5 separate regions of the Homo sapiens genome follow, and all the other regions are linked to region 1. The links come from fine-mapping of genetic effects on gene expression. A gene starts in region 1. Each other region holds a variant in brackets. All regions are shown on one strand. Distances are from middle to middle. Region 1 holds the start of ZNF282 (zinc finger protein 282). Region 2 overlaps ZNF282 (zinc finger protein 282). Region 3 overlaps ZNF425 (zinc finger protein 425). Region 4 overlaps TRC-GCA16-1 (tRNA-Cys (anticodon GCA) 16-1). Region 5 has its middle 11 kb from the start of ZNF212.

Evidence for each region. PIP is the estimated chance that this variant, and not a neighbour inherited with it, causes the effect.
Region 2: its variant is the best candidate, but not a certain one, in a credible set for the expression of ZNF282 in whole blood (TOPMed, PIP 0.59).
Region 3: its variant is the best candidate, but not a certain one, in a credible set for the expression of ZNF282 in whole blood (TOPMed, PIP 0.53).
Region 4: its variant is the best candidate, but not a certain one, in a credible set for the expression of ZNF282 in whole blood (INTERVAL, PIP 0.58).
Region 5: its variant is the best candidate, but not a certain one, in a credible set for the expression of ZNF282 in testis (GTEx, PIP 0.62).

The regions. Positions count from the first base shown.
Region 1 is chr7:149,192,610-149,197,710 of GRCh38, reverse strand. It overlaps ZNF282 (zinc finger protein 282), which reads right to left and starts at 2,165. Exons shown (of 8, transcript NM_003575.4): 1 at 1,957-2,165. The coding sequence starts at 2,121. RefSeq lists an enhancer at 1,098-1,147 and silencers at 1,588-1,947, 2,068-2,389, 2,208-2,497.
Region 2 is chr7:149,219,564-149,224,664 of GRCh38, reverse strand. It overlaps ZNF282 (zinc finger protein 282), which reads right to left. Exons shown (of 8, transcript NM_003575.4): 8 at 1-853. The coding sequence ends at 18. Among named protein-coding and RNA genes, the nearest start is that of ZNF212, 18 kb to the left of the region's middle. RefSeq lists an enhancer at 3,838-4,827. The variant C/T (reference allele first, on the strand shown) is at 1,955.
Region 3 is chr7:149,109,461-149,114,561 of GRCh38, reverse strand. It overlaps ZNF425 (zinc finger protein 425), which reads left to right. Exons shown (of 4, transcript NM_001001661.3): 3 at 2,267-2,425. Among named protein-coding and RNA genes, the nearest start is that of ZNF425, 14 kb to the left of the region's middle. The variant C/T (reference allele first, on the strand shown) is at 2,190.
Region 4 is chr7:149,546,568-149,551,668 of GRCh38, reverse strand. It overlaps TRC-GCA16-1 (tRNA-Cys (anticodon GCA) 16-1), which reads right to left; the gene lies at 5,058-5,101. It also overlaps the pseudogene ZNF767P. Among named protein-coding and RNA genes, the nearest start is that of TRC-GCA16-1, 2.6 kb to the right of the region's middle. The variant A/T (reference allele first, on the strand shown) is at 2,080.
Region 5 is chr7:149,226,578-149,231,678 of GRCh38, reverse strand. No RefSeq gene overlaps it. Among named protein-coding and RNA genes, the nearest start is that of ZNF212, 11 kb to the left of the region's middle. RefSeq lists a silencer at 4,865-5,072. The variant G/A (reference allele first, on the strand shown) is at 3,125.

The sequences.
Region 1 (5,101 bases):
ACTTGAGGTCAGGAGTTCAAGACCAGCCTGGCCAACATGGCGAAACCCTGTCTCTACTAAAAACACAAAAATTAGCCGGGTGTGGTGGTGGGCTCCTGTAATCCCAGCTACTTGGGAGGCTGAGGCAGGAGAATCGCTTGAACCTGGGAAGCGGAGGTTGCAGTGAGCCGAGATGGTGCCACTGCACTCCAGCCTGGGCAACAGAGCAAGACTCCGTCTCGGAACAAACAAATAAACAACAAAAAAACCCACCACATTCCTACCAGGGCTGCAGTCAAGGAAAAGACCGGAGAGCCCAAGCTAGGGCAGAAAAGCAGCTTCCCCCCATATACAACTACTGTTTCATAAACATTTTCCAAATTGAAAATAGGTTCACTAAAAAAGGTCACTCATTAGAGGTGAAGAGGGGATGTCCCTCACACCCAAGAGGACCAAGAGAAAGAAAAACTCCTCTGGGACCCCTCCTTGCTTCCTGGGGAAGGGGTGCCCCATGGCCTGGGGACTCCCCCTTTTATCTTCCAGCACAGAGCCCTCACCCCAGAAGGGTAAACTAATTGGTGCAATTGAGAGCTGAGACCTATGGCTAAGGGGGGCTGGTTGAGGCTGGTGACAGTTCACTGGTCATCTGGGACCTGGTGTCAGACTCAGGGCTCACTGGACCACATGGGCTGGCAGCCGACTCTCCTTCACACCTGGGACAGGAAGAGGTGTCATTTTCTGTCCTCCCGATGGCTGCAGAAAAGGCCCTCAGGCTAGGAAAAGGGGAGGCCTGCTGCTTGGGGCGATCTGGGCAGACCAGCCCCACTCTCTGACTCAAGAGCAGCCCTGCTCCGGGGCAGACCTGCTCCGGGACACAGCAGAGTGGAGAGCAGGGCCCTAGGATCGCCAGGCCCTGTAATACCAGTAAGAGGTGCTGGTGTTTCCATCAAAAGCACCCATTCCTCCATCACAGAGGCTCCACTCCGCCCTAGCCCACAGAAGGGGACAGAGTCCACAGTAGAAGTTAAGAAAGTCCCGGGGCCCAGTTTAGTTTTCTCGGGTTTGAAGCCCTAACCCTGAAAATGATCAAACACAACACAGCAGCCCCTGGCTCCCTCGTTAGCACCTGGCTGAGAGCCGCGTGGTGAGCAGAGGGGCCCCTGAGCAGCCCAGCCCCAGGGTGGGCCCAGAGAGTCTTCCCTGGGCAAGCTTTCAGGCCTCTCTGAGGATCCACCTCCCCTGGTTTTATACCCAATTCTGGAGCACCGGTTCTGCCCACGGAGATCATCGATGGAGCCTGAAGAAATGCCTGGTGCTACTCTCACCCGTCAGAGACCCTGAGCTCTGGGACCAGGCAAGGGCTCAGGAGTCTTAAAAGCTGCCCAGGCCATTCCAACATGCGGCCAAGTTTGTCAACCGCAGGAAAGACCCCGAAGTCATCTCTCCATGGCCCCCTCCCTGGATCACACCCGGTGCAGGGGGAGAGTGAATTACTCATTACACTTGGTGAAAGGTGGTAATCAAACATTTAAAAAATATCCCCGTCAAATTGGCCACCGTGTAAACACGAACGAGGCATTCACTTCTGCGGCCGGGCGGAAGCACTGCCCGCGAAGCTCTCCGCCGGCCGGGCGCAAAGGGAGCCCCAAGCCGGGGCTCAGCCACAGGGTCAGAGCTCTGCCAGGTCCCGGAAAGGACGGTCCCGGCCCCCGCCCCGCGGGGCCTCCGCACTTGGGCCCGGCGACCGCTGCTCCGCGCCGCGCGGGCCAGGCCTGCCCTTCCGGGCCTGCGTCGGGCCCGCTCCGTCCTGCCCGCCGCGCAGCCCGGCCGTGCCCCGCCCGCCTCGGGCCTCGCCTGGGCGCGGAAGCTGGGAGGGCGCCGCAAGGCTACCGGAGGACGGCGCGGCCCGGTCCCGCGGCCCAGCCCGCGCCCCGCCCCCACGGCAGCGCGGCCATGGCGCCGGCGGGGTTCTCCCACCTGCATGGGCGGCATTCCCTCGGCCATTTCCCCGCGCAGCGCCGGCTCCTGGTGGCAGACCTCCTCCGGGGGCAGAGCCTGGGCCCAGCTCCAGCTCCCGCTGTCCAGCCCCAGGCCCTGGATGCCCAGCTGCTGAGGCTGCGGCCGTGTTGACACAAACTGCATCCTGGGAGTGCTGTTCCCCGCTCGGGTCGGCCAGGGAGAAGAAGAACGTTTTCCAGGCGCCTTCCCCCTCTCCGGGGCCGGACAGCTCCATCTACAGCCCGTAGGAGCAAACAGTCCCCTTCGGCGGCGCTCCCCGCCCCTTGGCAGCCCGCGCGCCAGCCAATGGCCTCGGAGCTCCTGCCCGCCTGCGGGGACCTACCGGGGCCACTCCCGGACTGGGGTCGCCACCGCCCCAAAACTGAGAGGCGGCGGCCTCGCCCAGGGGTCAGGCCCCCTCAATCTGGGATGGCCGACTTTAAAGGCCCAAACTATGCGAGGACCTGGACTGTGGGCTTGATTACTGTTAATTCTGCAAATGTATTGGGCATCCCGGGAGAAAATAGTGCCTGACCCTTGTGAAAATTTTGCAGGAGTAATTCTGTCTTCAGACACTTTCTTCTGGCCTTCTGCCTTCCCTCACTCCTTTGCAGACTTTACCTCCCACTCCCCTTCTTCCCAATCCAGATTTACCTGGACCCATCCCAGAGCTTTTGCACTGTTATGGATGATAGAGAAGTGATTCATGTTAAGGTGTCAAAAGAGGGCTGAGCTCTTTCTCCCAGGTAAGGTGCAGTGCATTTTAACAGTGGCCTCTTCAAACACCTTGAAATTGGGTTGGGCGTGGTGCCTCACACCTGTAATCTCAGCACTCTGAGAGGCTGAAGCAGGAGAACGACTTGAGCCCAGGAGTTCGAGACCAGACTGAGCAACATATTGACACCCCATCCCTATAAAAAATAAAAATTAGCCGAGCGCGGTGGCTCACATCTGTAATCCCAGCACATTGGGAGGCTGAGGCAGGCGGATCACCTGAGGTCAGGAGTTCGAGACCAGCCTGGCCAACATGGTGAAACCCCGTCTCTACTAAAAATACAAAAAGATTAGCCGGGCGTGGTGGCGTGGGCCTATAATCCTAGCTACTCGGGAGGCTGAGGCAGGAGAATCGCTTCAACCTCCGAAGCGGAGGTTGCAGTGAGCCAAGATCGCGCCAGTGCGCTCCAGCCTGGGCAACAGAGCGAGACTCCATCTCAAAAAATAATAATAAGGCCGGGCGCCGTGGCTCACGCCTGTAATCCCAGCACTTTGGGAGGCCAAGACGGGCGGATCACGAGGTCAGGAGATCGAGACCATCCTGGCTAACACGGTGAAACCCCGTCTCTACTAAAAATACAAAAAAATTAGCCGGGTGTGGTGGCGGCGCCTGTAGTCCCAGCTACTCGGGAGGCTGAGGCAGGAGAATGGCGTGAACCCGGGAGGCGGAGCTTGCAGTGAGCCGAGATCGCGCCACTGCACTCTAGCCTGGGCAACAGAGCAAGACTCCGTCTCAAAAAAAAATAATAATAATAATAATAAAATAAAAAATAAAAATTACCCGGGCATGATGGCTAATGCCTGTACTCCTAGTTACTCAGGAGGCTAAGGCTGTAGGATTGCTTGAACTCAGGAGTTGGAGGTTGCAGTGAGCTGTGATTGTGCCGTTGTGCTCCAGCTTGGGCGGCATAGCAAAGATCCTGTGTCAAATAAATAAATAAATAAACCTTTAAATCGGGCAGTCATGGTGGCTCACACCTGTAATCCCAACACTTTGGAGGCCAAGGCTGAGGCCAGGAGTTCAAGACCAGCCTGGGTGACACAGCGAGATCCCTTCTCTACAAATAAAACCCTTTAAAGGCAGGTCAGTGTCACTTTGAAACATCAGGCCAGGTCAGAGGAGGAGCCAGGGAGAGGCCAGTATAAGCTGATGAAGATGGAGGAGGGGAAAATTCAGTCATTCCAAATGTATTTATTGAACACCTACTGTGTGCCAGGTACTGTTTAGGAAGAGGGTGAGCTTTGCAGTTGCATACACCTGAGTTTAAATCCCAAAATCACCACTCACTAGCTATGACTTTGAGCAACTTATTTAACTTCTCTGAGCCTCATTCTCTTCATATATAAATGAAGAAAATAATGGCAACTCTATTTTAATGTTGTAAAATTAAATGAGAATTGTGCCTGGCACATAGCGAGCATTCTGCAAAGATAGTTACCCCCAAAAGGTGTTTTTGTAATTATTCTCAAAATAGTATTTACTTTGTTTTCCTAAAGGACCAGTCCCTGTCTTGTTAAGGAAGAGATCTCTGAGGCTCATCACCTTGTGTGGAAGCAGACCTGCTAGTACCTTTAAGTTCCACTGCACTTCATAAAATAAAGGACATTATTGGCCTACGTGAGACATGTGCTTAGAAGGCCATATTCAGAAGAACAGTTACCAAGTACTTTCTCTGCTAGGCACACTTCTAGGATACAGAAATGAGTATTCACAGACTTAAGATTATCCTCAAGGAGCTTATAGGCCAGTAAAGTCCATGCTCCCAGAAGTCAGTGATTTCCTTCCCTGCTTCCTGGCCCTGATTGTAAACATCACGTCCACTTTTATTAGAGGAACCAGGCAAGTTAAGTCTGAAAAGCTCTAGGCAAATTCATTTCCACCAGCGAGCCACATTTCAGAACACGTCTTCTGCACTGTAGATTATCAACTATCTTTTCTCTTTCCTAGAGGTGATAAAGGAAGGACTAGGTTAGTCCCAAACATTTATGCTATCTTTTCTGTATAAAGCCTTTAAAATGACTTCCCTTCCTAAGCACTTAACTAGTTATAACGATGTCCTTTGTTACATAGTAAGACATCGCTGTAGTGTGTCTACTTCACATTTCTCCTTCACAGCGGGTGGATTTTCATGCAGCCATCAACACTATCACCCTTTGTGACCAGAGTAGTTGCTCAGAGCTAGAGGTCCCATTCATTGTTAAGATGATCCCAGTACTTTGGGAAGCCGAGGCGGGCAAATCATGAGGTCAAGAGTTTGAGACCAGCCTGGCCAATATGGTGAAACCCCATCTCTACTAAAAATACAAAACTTAGCCAGGCATGGTGGTGTGCGCCTGTAGTCCCAGCTAC
Region 2 (5,101 bases), 27 kb before region 1:
CCTCCCCCAGCCCAGCCCTAGTCTCGCTCAGGAGGCGGCGGGAGCTGCCGTGGGGCGCCGGGGCCCGGGCCGCCGCTGTGCACGCGCAGGTGGTCCTTGAGCGACTCCTTGTAGCGGAAGCTCTTGCCGCACTCGCCGCACGTGTAGGGGCGCTCGCCCGTGTGGATGCGCTGGTGCTTGAGCAGGTTCTGCTTGCGGATGAAGCTCTTGCCGCACAGTGCACATTGGAAAGGCCGCTCGCCCGTGTGCAGCCGCTGGTGGTTCTGCAGGTGCTCCTTACGGCTGTAGGTCTTCTCGCACTCCGAGCACTTGTAGGGCCGCTCGCCGCGGTGCGTCATCTGGTGGCGGATGAGGCCCGAGTGGCAGTTGAAGCTCTTCTCGCACTCAGCGCACTCGTAGGGCCGCTCCTTGGTGTGGCTGCGGTGGTGGATGATGAGGCTCTTGCGCACGCCGAAGCTCTTGCCGCACTCGGGGCACGAGTAGGGCTTGCTGCGGGCGCCGTGCAGGAGGAGGCTCCGCCGCAGCCCGCCAGGGCAGCAGCTGCCACAGCCGCCGCCTGCCCCCGTCCCCGCCTCCGCGCCGCCGCCCCCACCGCCCCCATCGCCCCCGCCGCCCCCGGTGCTGCGGTCCCCACCCGGCGGCGCCTCGCCGGAGCCACGCTCCCCGGGCAGCACCTGGAAACCGTCGTCCAGCAGCCCTCGGCTCGGGGGGCCGCCCGGGTTCTCGGCCACCGCGATGGGGGGCAGGCTCTGGGGCTGGGGCTGCGACTGCAGCTGCGGCTGCGGTGGCTGGGGCTGGGGCTGGGGCTGTGGCGGGGCCGGGGGTGGGTTCTTCACCATCAGCAGGCTGTCACCTGGGGAGATAGGAAGAAGTGACATGCTGACAGGGGTTCTCGGCCAGGACCCCACACTGCTCCCGAAGGGGGGCCCAGGGAGCATGCTATCTGAGCCTCAGTTCCACTAACTACGAGGGATTGCACAAGGTGCTGGGCCACGATCTACGTGGCCCTTCGACCTGTTCGAAGCCACCCTGCTGTGGAGCCCAGAAACGGGTCAAGCAGGTGGCACGCAGCAAGGACAGGAAGTCCCTCCAGAACGCTGAGGGCTAAGGGGTAGGGGACCTGCTGTCCAGAAGTCATTTTGGAAGGCAGAATTTCCCAGAAACAACAAGACTTACTTGCAGTCTGATGGACAATGTTTTTTGTTTGTTTGTTTTTCCAGACAGGGTCTGGCTCTGTCTCCCAGGCTGTAGTGCACTGGTGAGATCATGGCTCACTGCAGCCTTGACTTCCTGGGCTCAAGTGATCCTCCCACCTCAGCCTGCCAAGTAGCTGGGACCATAAGCATGCGCCACCAGGCCCAGCTAATTAAAAAAAAAAAACAAATCTTTTCGGCCGGTCGCAGTGGCTCACGCCTGTAATCCCAGCATTTTGGGAGACCGAGGTGGGCGGATCACCTTAGTTCAGGAGTTGGAGACCAGCCTGACCAACATGGAAAAACCCCGTCTCTACTAAAAATACAAAATTAGCCGGGAGTGGTGGCCCATGCATGTAATCCCAGCTACTCAGGAGGCTGAGGCAGGAGAATCACTTGAACCGGGGAGGCAGAGGTTGCAGTGAGCTGAGATCTTGCCATTGCACTGGCCCAGGCATCCAGCCTGGGCAACAAGAGCGAAACTCTGTCTCTCAAAAAAGTAAATAAATAAAATACAATTTAAAAAGGCCAGGCGCAGTGGCTCACGCCTGTAATCCCAGCACTATGGGAGGCCGAGGTGGGTGGATCACGAGGTCAAGAGATCGAGACCATCCTGCCCAACATAGTGAAACCCCATCTCTACTAAAAATACGAAAATTAGCTGGGCATGGTGGCACGCACCTGTAGTCCCAGCTACTTGGGAGGCTGAGGCAGGAGAATCACTTGAACCTGGGAGGCGGAGGTTGCAGTGAGCTGAGATC[C/T]TGCCACTGCACTCCAGCCTGGCGACAGAGCGAGACTCTGACTCAAAAAATAAATAAATAAAAATAAAAAATAAAAAATAAATTTTTGTTGAGACAGGGTCTCACTATGTTGCCCAGGCTGGTCTCCAACTCCTGGGATCAAGCAATCCTCCCACCTTGGCCTCCCAAAGTGCTGGGATTACAGATGTGAGCCAGCACACACACTGACAATGCTCACTTTTATCTCAGGACAGTCTCTCAATAGGAAGAAAAGAATTTTATCCAAGGTGAAAACCATCTAGAGGCCCACAGGAATGGAATGCAGGGAGCTGGAAACATAAGCATCAGATGGGTTGGCAGTCATGTTTCCACTAAGCATGTGGGGCATCTGACTTGGGCAGGTGTGGGCAGCTGGGACATGTGAGTCCCACCCTGGCACCTGACCCACCTGGACCTTGGCAGCACCATAACAGGCCCTCCTTGCACTCGTGGCAGTGGCCACCCAACCTACCACCCCAGGAAATGCGGTTCTTGCCCCCTTTCCTCCAAGTGCACAGTTCTCCACCACCTTGGGGGGCAGTGGGAGACAAAGCCCAGGCTCTGAGCATCAGAATGGTGACGTCAGGCCCAGTCCTTCCCCCTCCCACCCACCCTGTCCCCCAGCCCAGTGGTTCTCATGCCTCACGCTCCATCACCTCCCTGGTCTTCAGTTTGAATTCCTTTCTCCCTAGAGGAGTCCTGCTCCCCAATTTAGGGGAAGCCTGTGGAAGAGCTCTGAAGAAAGAGACGGCCTCCCACCTCTTCTCAGCATCCTTTTCTCCGTGCTCACACCCCTCTGCCTAGGACCCAACTGCTCCCCGGAGGCCACTTCCCAGGCCACATCTGCCATGTTTCCACCCAGCCCTCCTATATTCGTTGGTGTTTGACTGAGGTCTGTCCTTATATGATACTCTTAAATAGACTGGGCCTGCCCTCCCTCTCTGTCTCAATCAAAATTGGCCTGGCAGAGAACCATCTCTGCAGGACACTGGCCAGGTGCAGAGGCCAAAAGAATTCTCTTCACATCAGTGCAGGATGCCTGGGAAGGGTCATCCCAGCTCCAGAGAATCCCGGGAGATCGCTGTGGCCTCTGTGGCCACGGCACTGAGGGTGTTTGCTTCTCTGTCTACCCAGTCCTGCTACTCTCACTCCTTCCCAGGTGTTATTCCCAGAGGACTTGCAAAGAAACTATATGCACATAAACTCCCAGGGGCTGTCTCCCGGGAAGCCCACCTAAGGCAGTCCTACTCTGACCGTCTTCCAACCCAGTGTGAACCTCAATCCACGTTCTCACCATCCCGCTATGCCCTCCACCTCCAACCTTTTTCTGCCTTCCTGACCCAACTTGGCTCTCCAGGCCCGGCAGCCCAGGCACTTGCAAGGGCACGGTGATTGCCTTTGCTCCGCCGTTGTGCTTGCCTGGAGAACTCCAGTCCTGTGACTGCACTCAGGCAGCTGAAAAACTGCACAAGCTGGCCAGGCACTGTGGCTCATGCCTGTAATCCCGGCACATTGGGAGGCCAAGGCAGAAGGATTGCTTGAGCCCAGGAGTTTGAGACCAGCCTAGGCAACCTAGGGAGACCCCATCTCTACAAAAAAACATTTAAAAATTAGGTACTGTGACACACGCCTGTGGTCCCAGCTACTCAGAAGACTGATGCGAGAGGATTATTTAAACCTGAGAGGTCGAGGCTGCGGTGAGCCGTGATCGCGCCACTGTACTCCAGCCTGGGTGACAGAGTGAAACCTTATCTCAAAAAAAAAAAAAAAAAAAACCCTCCAGGGGCCTCCACACAGCCTGGCATCCTGGCCCACGTCTCTAGTGGGTTTTACTTTTCCACTCTGGAATGATTACGTCATCCTTCCTCCTCTATCCTACGCCCCTCCCCCCCAACCCATGCATGGCCCTGAGGGCTTTTCCTTTCCAGTCACTGGCTGGTAAGTGATTCACATGCAAGCATGTAACCTAGTTATGGTCAGTAGGGTATGGGAAGTTTGCTGGGAGGCTTCTGGAAAGATTTCCTCATTCCTTAGAGTGTGCAGGAAAAGATGGGCTTTCCTGTACACTCATGTCTGGATGCGACGCTTGGGACAGCTGCAGCTGCTGTGCTACCAGCCTGGGGATGAAGCCACACCGAGGATGGTCAGGCAAGGAATTGGAAAGAACCTGGGTCCTTGAAAACATGCTGAGTCTTTGAATCAACTAAGCCTGAACCTGACCTACCTTAGGACTTCCAGTTACGTAAGAGAAGAAATTTCTTTATTCTTTTTTTTTCTTTTGGAGACGGAGTCTGGCTCAGTTGCGCAGGCTGGAGTGCAGTGGCGCGATCTCAGCTCGCTGCAAGCTCCGCCTCCTGGGTTCACGCCATTCTCCTGCCTCAGCCTCCCGAGTAGCTGGGACTACAGGCGCCCACCACGACTACGCCAGGCTAATTTTTTTGTATTTTTAGTAGAGACGGGGTTTCACCGTGTTAGCCAGGATGGTCTCGATCTCCTGACCTCAGGATCCGCCCGTCTCGGCCTCTCAAAGTGCTGGGATTACAGGCGTGAGCCACCGTGCCCGGCTTCTTTATTCTTTAAGGCAGTTTGAATCAGGGTTCTAAAGTAGTTGGGAGCATCTGACCCGAGACAATGGTCTAGTTATCTCCGACCTTAAAAGAACCCCCTCCCTAGGCCCATGTGGCCCGTGCCCCAGCTCCTCACATGTCATTTCTGTTCCTTTTCATAGTAAGACTCATCAAGAGTCACTGCACTTGCCCTTACCACTTCTTCACCTCCCATTCTTTTTAGATGATTCCAATCAGGCATGCACCCTTGCCATTCCACTGAAAAACTTTTTCGTTTTTGAGACCAAGTCTTGCTCTGTTGCCCAGGCTGGAGTGCAGTGACACAATCTCTGCTCACTGCAACCTCCACCTCCCAGGTTCAAGCGATTCTCTTGCCTCAGCCTCCCAAGTAGCTGGGATTACAGATGCCTGCCACCATGCCTGGCTAATTTTTGTATTTTTAGTAGAGACAGGGTCTCTCCATGTTGGCCAGGCTGGTCTCGAACTCCCGACCTCAAATGATCCACCTGCCTCGGCCTCCCAAAGTGCTGAGATTACAGGTGTGAGCCACCACACCCAACCT
Region 3 (5,101 bases), 83 kb after region 1:
GCCGGGCATGGTGGCGCACACCTGCAATCCCAGCAACTCAGGAGGCTGAGGCAGGAGAATTGCTTGAACTCGGAAGGCGGAGGTTGCAGTGAGCCACTCTGTGCCACTGCACTCCAGCCAGACTGTGCCCTGCACTCCAGCCTGGTGACAGAGTGAGACTCCATTTCAAAGAAAAAAAAAAAAAAAAAAAGGCTGGGCGCAGTGGCTCACGCCTGTAATTCCAGCACTTTGGGAGGCTGAGGCAGGTGGATCATGAGGTCAGGTGTTCCAGACCAGCCTGACCAACTTGGTGAAACCCCGTCTCTACTAAAAATACCAAAAAAAAAAAAAAAAAAATTAGCTGGGCGTGGTGTTGCACCCCTGTAGTCCCACCTACTCAGGAGGCTGAGGCAGGAGAATCGCTTGAACCCGGGAGGCAGAGGTTGCAGTGAGCCAAGATCACACCACTGCACTCCAGTATGGGCAACAGAGCAAGACTGTCTCAAAAAATTTTGTGAAATATTGCAGAGGATATTTAAACTGAACAGTCTTTTTTTTTTTTTTTTTTTTAGACAGAGTCTCTCTCTATCACCTAGGCTGGGTGCAGTGGCACAATCACAGCTCACTGCAGCCTCAAACTCATGGGCTCAAGTGATCCTCCCAACTCTGCCTGCTGAGTAGCTGGGACCACAGGCATACACCACCGCACCTGGCTAATTTTTAAAATTTTTGGGCCAGGTGCGGTGGCTCACGCCTGTAATCCCAGCACTTTGGGAGGCCAAGGTGGGTGGATCACGAGGTCAGGAGATTGAGACCATCCTGGCTAACACGGTGAAACCCCATCTCTACTAAAAATACAAAACATTAGCCGGGCGTGGTGGCAGGCGCCTGTAGTCCCAGCTACTCGGGAGGCTGAGGCAGGAGAATGGCATGAACCTGGGAGGTGGAGCTGCCAGTAAGCTGAGATCATGCCACTGCACTCCAGCCTGGGCGACAGAGTGAGACTCCGTCTCAAAAAAAAAAAAAAAAAATTTGTAGGAATGGGGTCTCCCTATGTTGCCCAGGCTGGTCTCAAACTCCTGGGCTCAAGCAGTCCTCCCACCTCAGTCTCCCAAAGTTCTGGGTATACAGGCATGAGCCACTGCACCTGGCCTGAACTAAAGTCTTGGTAAGGCTTTATTCTATTGTCATTCATGTCATTTCAACGGCTTTCATTTTTTTGACTTAACTTTGATCTCAACGTCTCTAGGAATCGAAGTCAACTATGAAAATGATTTTTATTGTGGGTAATGGTAAAAAAGAGAGAGAGGCCGGGCACGGTGGCTCATGCCTGTAATCCTAGCACTTTGGGAAGCTGAGGTGGGTGGATCTCTTGAGGTCAGGAGTTCGAGACTATCCTGGCCAACATGGTGAAACCCTGTCTACTAAAAATATGAAAATTAGCCAGGCATGGTGGCACGTACCTGTAATCCCAGCTACTCGGGAGGCTGAGGCAGGAGAATTGGTTGAACCTGGGAGGTGGAGGTTGCAGTGAGCCGAGATCGCACCACTGCATTCCAGCCTGGGAGACAGAGCGATACTCTGTCTAAAAAAAAAAAAAAAAAAAAAAGGGTCACGGGGCTGGGCGCGGTGGCTCACCCCTATAATCCCAGCACTTTGGGAGGCCGACGCAGGCAGACTGCTTATGCCCAGCAGTTTGAGACCAGCCTGGGCAACGTGGCAAAACGCTATCTCTATAAAAATACAAAATTAGCAGGGCATGGTGGCGCATGCCTATAGTCCCAGCTACTCAGGAGGCTGAGGTGGGAGGATCAGTTGATCCCCGGGAGGCAGAGGTTGCAATGAGCCAAGATTGTACCACTGCACTCCAGCATGGGTGACAGAGTGAGACCCTGTCTCAAAAATAAAATAAAATAATAATGATAATAATTTTTAAAAATAATTTTTTTTGAAACGGAGTCTCGGTCTGTTGCCTAGGCTGGGGTGCAGAGGCGCGATCTCTACTCACTATAACCTCCATCTCCCAGGTTCAAGTGATTCTCGCACTTCAGCCTCCCGAGTAGCTGGTATTACAAGCGTGTGCTACCACGCCCAGCTAATTTTTGTAATTTTAGTAGAGACGGAGTTTGCTGTGTTGGCCAGGCTGGTCTCTAACTCCTGACCTCAAGAGATCTGCCTGCCTTGGCCTCCCAAAGTGCTGGGATTACAGG[C/T]GTGAGCCACCACACCCGGCCAAAAAAATTATTTAAGTATGCAGTAAACTCAAAGTCTGTGTGGACTCTATTTGCAGGGTATGCTTTTTCCAAGCCAGATTTGATCACATGGATGGAACAAGGGAGAATGCTATTAATCAGCGAACAGGGATGCTTAGATAAAACAAGAAGGACAACTAGCCCTCCTACTGATGAACAGTTGAACATGAAGAATACTGGAAAGTTGCTATGTTTTGGTGAGTAAGATGGATTTAAGATCATGAATTATTTTATTTTCCTAGCCTTGTTTCCTGAATCTTTCTTTTTGGATATCTGACTAGATCTAGTCAATAAAAAAAGTTGTTTTGATGGAGAATGTTAGTTTTCTTTACTCAAGAGGGTAGCAAATGTGGGCTGGGCGTGGTGGCTCATGCCTGTAATCTCAGCACTTTAGGAGGCTGAGGTGGGTGGATCACCTGAGGTCAGGAGTTCCAGACCAGCCTGGCCAACATGGTAAAACCCCATCTCTACTAAAAATACAAAAAAATTAGCTGGGCGTGGTGGCAGGCACCCACAATCCCAGCTACTCTGGAGGCTGAGGCAGGAGAATTGTTTGAACGTGGGAGGCGGAGGTTGTGGTGAGCCAATGTCATGCCATTGCACTCCAGCCTGGGAGACAGAGCGAGACTCCATCTCAAAAAAAGAGAGGGTAGCAAATGTGAGACTGTATTATGTATTACTCTCATACAGAAAGTTTTATATAGATATATAATTTTTTTTTTTTTTTTTTTTTTTTTTTTTTTAGACAGAGTCTTGCTCTGTCACCCAGGGTGGAGCCCAACTGTGCAATCTCGGCTCACTGCAACCTCTGCCTCCCGGGTTCCAGGGATTCTCCTTCCTCAGCCTCCAGAGTAGCTGGGACTACAGATGCCTGCCACCACACCTGGCTAATTTTTTTGTATTTTTAGTAGAGAAGGGGTTTCACCATATTGGCCAGGCTGGTCTCAAACTCCTGACCTTGTGATCCATCCAACTCGGCCTCCCAAAGTGCTGGGATTACAGGCATGAGCCACCGCGCCCGACACCCGGCTAATTTTTTGTATTTTTAGTAGAGACAGTGTTTCGCCATATTGGCCAGTCTGGTCTCAAACTCCCGACCTCAAGTGATCCACCCATTTGCTCTTCCAAAGTGCTGGGATTATAGACGTGAGCCACCATGCCTGGTGTGGTGATATATGTTATTTAAAAAAAAACAAATCCTGGGAAGAAGATGACAATTCCTTGTAAAGGGCAAGGGATGGCCGGGCGTGATGGCTCATGCCTGTAATCCTAGCACCTTGGTAGGTCAAGGCGGGTGGATCACCTGAGGTCAGGGGTTCGAGACCAGCCTGGCCAACATGGCGAAACCCCCTCTCTACTAAAAATACAAAAATTAGCCGGGGGTGTTGGCGCATGCCTGTAATCCCAGCTACTCGCGAGGCTGAGGCAGGAGAATTGCTGGAATGCAGGAGGCGGAGTTTGCAGTGAGCCGAGATTGCACCACTGCACTCCAGCCTGGGCGACAGAGTGGGACTCCGTCTCAAAAAAAAAAAAAAAAGAACAAGGGATCCATTTGTCAAAACCCTGAGAGGAAAAACCACTCCTTGTCACACTGTCATGTCCATTTGAATATACAGAAATGAAAAACCCTGTAATTTTGTACAAAATTTTTTTTATTATACAGAACTTTAAAACTTGGGTTTTTAAAACTCCTTTTGAATTCCTTGTGACATAAGGGAGTATTTCACTTTTTATAGTGCGCGAATGCTTTTCTTTTTTTTTTTTTTGTGAGATGGAGTCTCACTCTGTCGATGAGGCTGGAGTGCAGTGGCACCGTGTGGGCTCACTGCAACCTCCATCTCCTGGGTTCAAGCAATTCTCCTGCCTCAGCCTCCTGAGTAGCTGGGATTACAGGCACCCACAACCACGCCTGGCTAGTTTTTATATTTTTAGTAGAGATGGGGTTTCACCATGTTGGCCAGGCTGGTCTCGAACTCCTGACCTCAGGTGATCCACCCACCTCGGCTTCCCAAAGTGCTGGGATTACAGGCGTGAGCTACCGTGCCCGGCTGCACAAATGCTTTTCTAGGTTCTTGGGAGTCAAGGAATCCTCTGAAGCAGGAGACTTTGAGGCCAGGAAGTGTGTCCAAGCCCCATCAACAGGATAAAAGAATTTCCTGGTCAGGCGCGGTGACTCACGCCTATAATCTCAGCACTTTGGGAGGCTGAGGAGGTCGGATCACATGAGGTCAGGAGTTCGAGACCAGCCTTGCCAATATCATGAAACCCGTTTCTACTGAAAATACAAAAATTAGTCAGGTGTGGTGGCAGGCTCCTGTTATCCCAGCTACTCAGGAGGCGGAGGCAGGGGAATTGGTTGAGCCCTGGAGGCGGAGGTTGCAGTGAGCCAAGATTGCGCCATTGCACTCCAGCCTGGGTGACAGAGCGAGACTCTGTCTCCAAAAAAAAAAAAAAGAAAAAGAAAATAAATAAAGAATTATCAAGGGTTTCATTTCATTGACACTGTCTATTCATTCACTCATCTAACCAATATCGAGTGCCTCCCACAGTCACAGGAGTACGTTAGGCGAGGGCAAAAACTTTATATAATGTATGTGTATGTATACATATGAATAAAACAATTGTTATATTCTAGATGTTGATCGTCTTACTGACATGGCAATTAAGTTAGCCAATTATATTGAACTATACATAGTTGAATTAGTCAACTATAAAATAAGATTGCATATGACTTAATAAAATATTAAGTAATCCCTAATTCTGTGCTATAGGGATTTAGAGGAGAAGGAGCGGAGGAGAGAGAGCAATATCCCAGGAGGACTCTAAAAGGAATTAGGATATAAATAGCAAAAAATGGGCAGATTTGGTTAGAG
Region 4 (5,101 bases), 350 kb before region 1:
CATAAAAGATATGAGTATGTTGAGTGATTAGTGATCGGAAACTACGAGTGATATGGTACAGGTGTTTGTAGAAGAACAGTAAAGCCATTGATCAGGTCAGCTATCAATGAACTCCTGCTAGAGAAGGGGTGGTCTAGGCCTGAGTCCTAAAACTTCGTTAGTGATGTCAAAAGTCACAGTCCTTTTGAGGCTTCAGAGACCTCAGTTGTCTGATTATTTCTGTATCTCCATGCAAAGCCCATGACTCCTGTTTTATTCTCACCCCTACCTGTGATAAGCCTGAGACACTCCATGCCTTGTAATCCAGTGGCAATATCATCAGGGTGGGGGCTGGCTGGCTGCTCAGGTGGGCCCCCCAAGCAGAGTCTCAGCATAAGTACCATGTTTAGGTCTCACCTTTCTGCAATGTTTGAATTTCACCCAAAGCCACAATTTCAAAAAATGAACATTATTTCACAACTCTAGATCTTCCCAATTACAGGACTATTCACACTCCCTAATCAGGACCCCTTCCCACATCAGCACAGGCAGGGGGCTCTGCAGCAAGGCTGATGTTAGGGTGGAGGTGGCCTGCAGCCCCTGGAGTGTTTGCTGCACTGGGCCAGAGCGTCCTGTCCTCTGCCTGCCCAACAGCAGAGCCCCCTCCCCAGGGATTATTCAGGTCCTGCTGGGAGGAACAAACACCAAGTCACAGTACCTTTCCCCTTCATATATGTTTCTAGGCAACCCCAGCTTTCCAGACAGTCACTTTTCCCAGTGGTCATACCTGGTCTGGAAGATTCCCCATCATCTCGAATAAAGGTAAGCACTTCCTAAGTCCCCTTCAGCAACACATGCACAAACCGCCTCTTAGAGCACGTACCTTCTGCAGAGAGACACGCCCAGAGGGTGAGCTGATTTTTAAATTACAGTAGCTCCCTAGCTACCAGAAAAGCCCAAGTGAGATCTGAGGAAGTGGTTCTAGCTTCTCTATCCACCTGCCCTCCAAGGAGCTGAAGACTTCAGGCTGAGGAGGGCTGGCTGAAATGGCCAGAAGAGGGGACTGAAAGGGAAGCAAGGTGTCCTCTTAGTAGGGGAGCAGGCCTGCTAGTAAACCAGAGCCACTCTGGGTGTGAAGAAAGAGCCGCAGGCAACAAGAGCGTGGGACTCAGCTTCCAGAGTCAGAGATACTGCTCAGCCAGCCCAGGTGCCAGTGCCAGGGTGCAGTAGCTGAGTGCAGACTAGGAGGCCTTGCTTCCAGTTCAAGCGCCCTTCATCTGGGCTTGCATTAGTCAGCAAAGGTGGTTCTGCACTTCCCATTACTTTGACCCAGGAAGCCTGGTCCTGAATCTGTAAAGTCTATAAGTAAAACTACAGTTGACTTTGAACAACACAGGTTTGAACTGTGGGTCCACTTAACAGACAGATTGTCTTCTATCTTTGCTGCCCCCAAGACAGTAAGACCAACCCCTCTTTTCTTCTTCAGCCTACTCTGTGAAGATGACAAAGATTAGGACTTCTATGATGATTCACTTCACTTCTACTTATTCCATAGGAAATAAATTTTCCCTTATGATTTTCTTAATATTTTCTTTTCTCTAGCTTTATTTTAAGAATACAGTATATAACACATAGAACATATAAAATATGTGTTCATTGACTGTTTATGTTATCAGAAAGGCTTCCAGTCAACAGTAGGCTATTAGTAGTTACATTTCAGGGGAGTCAAAAGTTATATCCGCATTTCTGACTGCAAGTTGGTGGGTAGAAGTCATAGGGGAAAAAGAAGTCTGGAGAGCTGAAAAAGGACGGAGGGTAGCTCTGAGCTGCATTGCATGGAACCAAATTCTGTGTGGTGACTATAAAGCCCTTCCATCTTTAGCATCCTGTTCCCCTGCTACTCCCTGCACCACCTTCCCTGCTCCACTCCCCACGCTCCCCGTCCTCAGGCACTCCAGGACCCGCACTTGATGCTGGCCTCTGCTGAGGCTCCTTCTGCCTGCACGGCTCCTGCCTGTAGCACTGCAAGAGCAAGGCCAGGCTTCCTACATGAGGCTCCAACTTCTACACTCTTCAAAACTTGAAAAGAAATTGACTTGC[A/T]CCTTAGAAAGTGGCAGTGTTTGTCTCTTAGGCTAATATTTTATGGGAGTAAGCAGATTGCAGCTACAATTATGTTATTATGGACTGTTATACTCTTGTTCAGGGAGAAAAAATCTGCTAGGGATTAAGCAGAATTGGGTTCACATCTTTGCTTTTTTTTTCTTTGTTTAAAAAGTAATTATTATTTTTTGTTTGTTTCGGATCTTTGCTTTTAGCTGTTGTTGCTTTTAACTCCATGGAGAGACCGAATGGAGTGAGCCCAGCAGGGCATGCTGGGCAAGAGAGGTCCCCCGAGTCCCAAATAAGAATTTCAACTAGTATAAAACGAGGCAGCGAACCCACACGTGGAAGTCTGATACCGCTTGCAGAAGGGAATTGAATAGATGTCTCCCTATTGGTAAGGATGTGGTTTTATTGACTTGAAATAACAAAGCCCGCAAGCAACAACTGATCATCCGCGGGATGCTGCCACAAGGAATAATTGAGCACTCATTCAGACACAGGGGAAACCACTGCCTCTTTCAGTCTTTCTCCCAGATTCCAACAGTCAGTGTTACAGCATTTCACCTTGTTCACCTCCCTGAGAAGACGTTGCAGCTCACTCACCCCAGTGGGCACTGGGAGCCTCTGCTCAGGTGGGAGACAGATGCCCCCCACATGCACATCTGGTGTTTATGAAGCAGATACTGGGGCTTCATAAACACAGAAGGGGCAGGGAAGTAGCCCCAGGGCATAGTGTGGGGCCTCCTGACTAAAAGTAGCTTGCAAACCCCTGCCTATAACAGCCACTTCCTGGCAGTCATTGTGCCACTTAGGAGCCCTCCTCACCGCTCTTCCTTTAGTTCCTTCACTCTGTATAGACCCTGCCAGAGCAGCTCAGGGTGGAGCAGCTGCAGCCATGGGACCTGCTCCAGGCAAGGCCCTATGCTACACAGTCCCTGGGGGTGAGGATTCCAGAGGAGTCAATTCCCTACCCGCCCTTCCAGGGGATGGCCGAGATGAGCGTTCCCACAGGGAAAGTGAAAGTTGCAAGGCTGTTGCGGAAACACCAGGGGTTCCATCTAGGTCTTGCTGCTCATCTCACAGAAAGCCAGTCACTGAGACAAGTATTGTCAGGGAAGAAGGCTTTATCCAGGTGCTACAGACAGGGTGAACAAGAGATCAGTCTCAAATCCATCATCATCAACTGACTAAAATTAGGGGTTTATATAGCAGGGAAGAAATGTAACTACATGTGGGAAAACAGGGATTAACGAGGGGCAAGGAAGAGGAGTTGGCCAACAGGCAGCAGGTGGTCACCTGGGGAATCATGATGGGTGAGGGGTCTGGCTTCTCACTTTCCAGATGTGGGGATCTGGTAAATTTCAGTTTCTTGATACCGTCTGGGAGGATTGCTGGCTGGTTTCCTGAGAAAGGAATTCAGATGACATAAATGTAAATTTCTCCTTGGGTTTCAAGACTGAGAGGGTCAATTTCTAGGTTTATTCAAGAAAAACCATAAACATCAGTTCTATGGGACAATTGGGCCCATTTCAAGGCTCTGAGGATAAGGGTTAATGAGGGGACAGAGTCGCCTGGAGAAGTTCACTGGGGCCTACAAGAAACTAGAGAGGCTTCCTGGCAAAGCTCTATGCTGTCTATCCTCTCTTCTCTCCTTGCAGGAAGATTCCAGTATAATAGACCCGAGGTGAAAAGGCTTTTGTTCAATAAGTAGAAAACTGAAGGGGGGTGGGAGGCACATGGATTTGAACCAGAGACCGCTTGGCCTGCAGGCAAATGCTGTACCTTCAGTTGCACCCCTCACTTGTTACAGCTGTTTCTGATAAGCACTTGTGCAGCCCCATCAGCACCTCGATTTCTTCTTGGTGAGTCCATGGGAACAGCCCCACTGCAAACAACCCATTCCTGCTCTCCTCTTTCCTCTAAACCTCAACCTCCTCCTACCTGGCAGTCCACAGGCCTACAGCTTCTCCTCAGTGGGAAAGACATCAGCTTGGAAAACCACTTGGAAAGCCAACGTTATCCTAGAAAAGCTTTTTAAATGACCCAGCAGGACAAGTCTCCGGATGGCCTTGGCCAACCCGGTGCTTCCCTCTTTTCTTGGTTGTAGTTCTCAGAATAACTAGAGAATGTACTGGGAGTGTTGTCCTGAGATAAGGAGGAACTGTCCTAAACCTGGACTCTGTTCCCATCACACCTAGAACAGGATGTCCTGCAACGCTTTAGCCCAATGATCCAAGTTGCCCTTGGGGTATAAAACTTGACAGCAGAGGGCGTTCAGGGTCCCTCAGCTGCAGTGTGAAGTGGGACACACAGGTGAGACTCCATCTGCCCTGGGCAGGTTCCTGAGCCTTGGGGGACCAGTTCACCCTACATCCCAGGCTTCTGTTGTCCCTTGCCTGCCTGTAAGGAATAAAGTTGCTTTGCTTAACTTGCTGTGTGAGTGTTCTGCATCACTGGACTCGAGCAAGTGGTACAAACTGCAGATTAATAACTGGTACGTGGTGAATCTGCTTCCTAAGTGTTTGCTGAATTTTGCGGCCCAGGAGATCATCTGGTGTTTCTGTGATGTGGGAAGATTAAAAGAAAGAAAAATCAAACCTCACACCTAACAAATCAGAATCTCAAGGTGGGACCCAAGGCATCTGTATACTTGACCACCCTCCCAGGTCATTCTGGTTCTCAGACATGTTTGGCAACTTTGATTTTAGTCTATACTTGCATGTTATATGCCTGAAAGAAAAAACAAAGACTAAAGGCCTGCATGAGTTCACACATCACCTTAATAACAAGATCATAGCTAGAACCACATTCCTAGTTTTGGGACTTTCCATTGCCGCAGCCCAAAGGATGACTAGATTCCTTTCCATCTCTTCTCCCTCCACTTCCTTCCCAGGAACCTCCCCTCAACCTGCCATAGGACCTGGGGCAACCTAAAGGTACCAATTGGTATGTGGTACTAAAAAGAGACTCTTTCCAGGGGGCACCTGGATTTGAACCAAGGACTTCTTGATCTGCAGTC
Region 5 (5,101 bases), 34 kb before region 1:
CACTTCTCATCCCCAAATCCTTGAAGTGTGGGGCAGGGGCACTGGCTTTGACACTATATGTAGGATGGGTCTGAAGCTATTTTTCAGTTAAAGGATATTGACACCATCAGAATGAAAGGTATGGGGACACCCAGATAGTCAACACTGGCTTACACCTCTAATACTAGATACAGAACTTGAATCTTGAATGGGAGACATCAAAGGTAGTCTTTTTTTTTTTTTTTTTTTTTTTGAGACGGAGTTTCACTCTTGTTGCCCAGGCTGGAGTGCAATGGCACGATCTTGGCTCACCACAACCTCCACCTCCCAGCTTCAAGCAATTCTCCTGCCTCAGCCTCCCGAGCAGCTGGGACTACAGGCATGCACCACCACACCCGGCTAATTTTGTATTTTTAGTAGAGACAGGGTTTCTCCATGTCGATTAGGCTGGTCTTGAACTCCTGACCTCAGGTGATCCGCCTGCCTTGGCCTCCCAAAGTGCTGGGATTACAGGCATGAGCCACCATACCCGGCCCAAAGGTAGTCTTTTATAACAAAGAGAGTCTTCTGGTAAACCTATAGAAATTATCATGCTGAGGGGTGACGTGGATTTAAAATATGTCTAGGCCAGGCACAGTGGCTCATGCCTGTAATCCCAGCACTTTGAGAGGCCAAGGCAGGAGGATCGCTTGAGCCCAGGAGCTCAAGGCTGCAGTGGGTCATGATCCCACCGTTGCCCTCCAGAGTGAGCGACAGAGCGAGACCCTATCTAAAAAAAATAACACATTAAATTAAATTAAAATATGTCTAAAGAAGTTTGAACAGAGGTTCCCAACCTTTGGGATACAGTGCCAGCATCTCACTAGCAGAGTGACTCTTATGGAAGGAGACATCTGGGACCCTTGTCAGTGGGGGCTGGGGGCTGTGTATGATTCTGACAGATATTCAGGACCTCTCATCTCAAGAATTACCAGTTTAGAGATATGCCTCCCTAGCCGGGCACAGTGGCTCATACCTGTAATCTCAGCACTGTGGGAGGCTGAGGTGAGTAGACCACATGAGGCCAGGAGTTCGAGACCAGCCTGGCCAACATGGTGAAACTCCATCTCTACTAAAAATACAAAAAGTAGCCGAGCATGGTGGTGCACATCTGTAATCCCGGCTACTCAGGAGGCTGAGTCAGGAGAATCGCTTGAACCTGGGGGCAGAGGTTGCAGTGACCCAAGATCGTGCCACTGCACTCCACCCTGGGCGACAGAGAAAGAGCCTGCCTCAAAGAGAAAGAAAGAAAGAAAAAGATATGCCTCCCTAATGACTCCCTAGGAGGCATGGCCTCCCCCAAACCGTCCTCCTGTGCTCTTCCAAAACAGGGTTCTGGGCCTCTAGGATGCTCTATCGCATGTTTTTGCAGTAACAGCTGGATGGACAAATGCTGTGAAATTATAGGCACAGGCTGGCTCATCCTGAGCCTGGTATGAAGTTTCCTACTTTCCCCCTTTACTCCCTGCCAATACCCAATACCCAGGGCCCAGATGTCAGAGAGCTGGTCATGGTGCCCAAATCTTTGATCATAAGATAACTGCCTTTACCTGTGTGTTTTGGGGTGTTTTTCATTTTTGGTGGTGTCTGACTTAAACCTGCCTTCTTGAGACTTCCATTTCATCCTCTGGCCTCCTTTCAGCGCTATGCATTCACTGTTTCTGAAGAGTTCCAAAAGGGCTGCAGCTCTGTGGGGCCCAGACCACCAGCAGCTGGTCCACGGCCTCTGGCTCTGCCAGTCTTCTGCCTTTCAATCCCAATTGCATTCTCCCCAGTGTGTTTCACCCTTGTCCCACATTGCGTCCTCCCTCCTTTCCCTCTGCCCCATCCAATTCATCCTCTAGTCCCTGACTTCTCCATGAAGGTTAATCTCACGCTTATCGTATCATGAGCTCTGACTCCTCCCATCAACTCTGCTGTCAAGCAAATTGTACCACCTTAGGGTGCCAATTTCCTCTTCATGTCTGTTGCTCAACTCCGATCACTTGTACCCCCTGTGGTGCCCATCCAGGCTAGACACGTGCTAAATACTAAAGAGGTATTCAAGTGAACAAAATGCAGAGGCCAGCATCCTGAGTGTCACCATCTTTGATCAGCTCTGTGGTTAGAGCTCCCTACGGGACTCTCCTAGGGCCTGTGCTGGGGGCTGGGGTGACTCACGGTGTAGTTGAGGGGCACTAGTGCAGCGGGATCCCCCAACCCAGGATCCAGGAAACCGGAGACTTAGCCTTGACCATCACTAGCTCAGTATGGCTTCTACAGACCAGTATTTTCCCAACTTCTCAGCGGGATGTCCTGCAGCGAGCCTTCCAGAAGATCAGGCGTATATTTCTCAAGCCCCCACCCTCATGCAGTCATATGCTTTCTAGTAGTGTTGTTCTCACAAATACCTTCTCTCCTTTAGACGTCAGGCTCCCAGAGGGCAAGGACTAGGTCTTACTCTTCTTTGTTCCCTAATAGATGTTCATGAAACAATAACAATGCAGCCATCCGTCCATCCTCAATCTCATTCTCCTAACACCCTGCCTTGCCCTTTCCATAAAGTAAGGCACAAACTGAGGCCATGAGCATGAAGTTCCCTGAGCTGTCCACCCATCTCAGGAAACGTTCTACTCTCTTGAGCTTTTTGGAGCAGCAACCTTTGCAGAGCACTCCTTGTACCTGATCATCTGGTACAGTGCTGAGGAAGGAATGCTACAATCCAGATGTCCCTGTTAGAGCTTCCTAGGCTGATGAGGACAGAAAGCCCAGAACAGCATATCCTGAAATGAGGAAGTAATTTGAATGTCTGGGAAATTGAACACAGGTCTGTAAGGACACAGATGCAGCTTTCAGCAGTGGATACTTCCAGGAAGTGTGTTAGGAAAGAGTTTCACTCTTTATTGTGTCCTCTTTTCTTTTTCTTTTTTTTTTTAAACTGTTCGAATTTTTATTGCATGCATTGTGTGTGTTTTTTTTTGTTTGTTTGTTTGGTTTTGTTTTTTTTTTTGGAGACGGAGTCTCACTCTGTCACCCAGGCTGGAATGCAGTGGCACAATCTTGGCTCACTGCAAGCTCCATCTCCCGGGTTCAAGCGATTCTCCTGCCTCAACCTCCTGAGTAGCTG[G/A]GATTACAGGTGTGTGCCATCACACCTGGCTAATTTTTGTGTTTTTAGTAGAGACAGAGTTTCACCATGTTGGCCACGCTGGTCTCAAACTCCTGACCTCATGATCCGCCCGCCTAGGCCTCCCAAATTGCTGAGATTACAGGCGTGAGCCACCATGTCTGGACTGCATTGATTTTTAAATTAAAAGTCAATTAAAAAAATAGGCTGGGTTGGGCGAGGTGGTTCACACCTGTAATCCCAGCACTTTGAGAGGCCGAGGTGGGCGGATCACTTGAGGTCGGGAGTTAAAGACCAGCCTGGCCAACATAGTGAAACGCCATCTCTACTAAAAATACAAAAATTAGCTGGGCATGGTGGTGGGGGCCTGTAATCCCAGCTACTCCGGAGGCTGAGGCAGGAGAATCACTTGAACCCAGGAGGCGGAGTTTGCAGTGAGCTGAAATGGCACCACTGCACTCCAGCCTGGGCAACAGAGTGAGATTCCATCTAATTAATAAATAAATAAATAAATAAATAAATAAATAAATAAATAAAAGGCCAGGTGCAGCAGTTCACATCTGTAATCTCAGCACTTTGGGAGGCTGAGGTGGGAGGGTTGCTTGAGCTCAGGAGTTCAAGCCCAGCCTGGGCAACATAGCAAGACCCTATCTCTACAAAAAGTAAAGAAAAACAAAATAGCCAGGTGTGGTGATGCATGCATGCCTATAGTCCCAGCCACTGGGGAGGCTGAGGCAAGAGACTGCTTGAGCCCAGGAGTTCGTGGCTGCAATGAGCAATGATTGAATCATTGCACTTCAGCCTGGACAACAGAGTGAAATCCTATCTCTCTCTTTTTTTGAGGAGTCCCGCTCTGTCGCCCAGGCTGGAGTGCAGTGGTGCCATTTCGGCTCACTGCAACCTTTGCCTCCCGGGTTCAAGCGATTCTCCTGCCTCAGCCTCCCAAGTAGCTGGGATTACAGGCACCCACTATCACGGCCGGGTAATTTTTTGTATTTCAGTACAGATGGGGTTTCACCATGTTGCCCAGGCTGGTCTCAAACTCCTGAACTCAGGCAATCCATCCACCTTGGCCTCCCAAAGCGCTGGGATTACAGGTGTGAGCCACCATGCCTGGCCTGTCTCTGTTTTTAAAATTTTTTTCTTTACTCTAGAGACAGGGGTCTCACTATGTTGGAAGGGCAGTCTGAAACTCCTGGTCTCAAGCAATCCTCCCACCTCAGCCTCCCAAAGTGCTGGGGTTACATGAATGAGCCACCACGCCCAACCGGATTGCTTCAGCTCCAGAGGTCAAGGCTGCAGTAAGCCAAGATTGCACCACTGCACTCAGCCTGAATGGCAGAGCAAGACTTTGTCTCTACATAAACTACATTTTCTCAGAAGGAAAATAAAAATCCACCCCCAAAGCAAAACCCCTGTTCTGCTTCAGGATGTGGACTCCAGGGTCTTCACTGAGGATCTTCGCTGCCTGGGAGCCAGCAGAGGCTAACATCCTGAGTGTCACCATCCCCGATCAGCTCTGGGGATGAGGCTCACTATGGGATGCTCCAGCAACCTGTGCCAGGGCTTGGGGCGACTCATGGTGTAGCTGAGGGGTACTTGGTGCAGTGGTATCCACCAGCCTAGGATACAGGAAAGCAGAGAGGCTTGGCTCTCACTAGCTCAGTCCCTAGGTCTCCTTGGGAATCAGCCCCTTGAAGGTAAAATAAAGGGATCACACTGAGCCTTGTGCTCAGGTGTTTTTTTGTTTTTGAGTCGGGGTCTCGCTCTGTCGCCCTGGCTGGAGTGCAGTGGTGCGATCTCCGCTCACTGCAATCTCCACCTCCTGGGTTCAAGCGATTCTCCTGTCTCAGCCTCCTGAGTAGCTGGGATTACAGACACCCGCCACCACGCCCGGCTGATTTTTGTATTTTTGGTAGAGACGGGATTTCACCATTTTCGTCAGACTGGTCTCAAATTCCTGACCTCGGGATCCGTCCG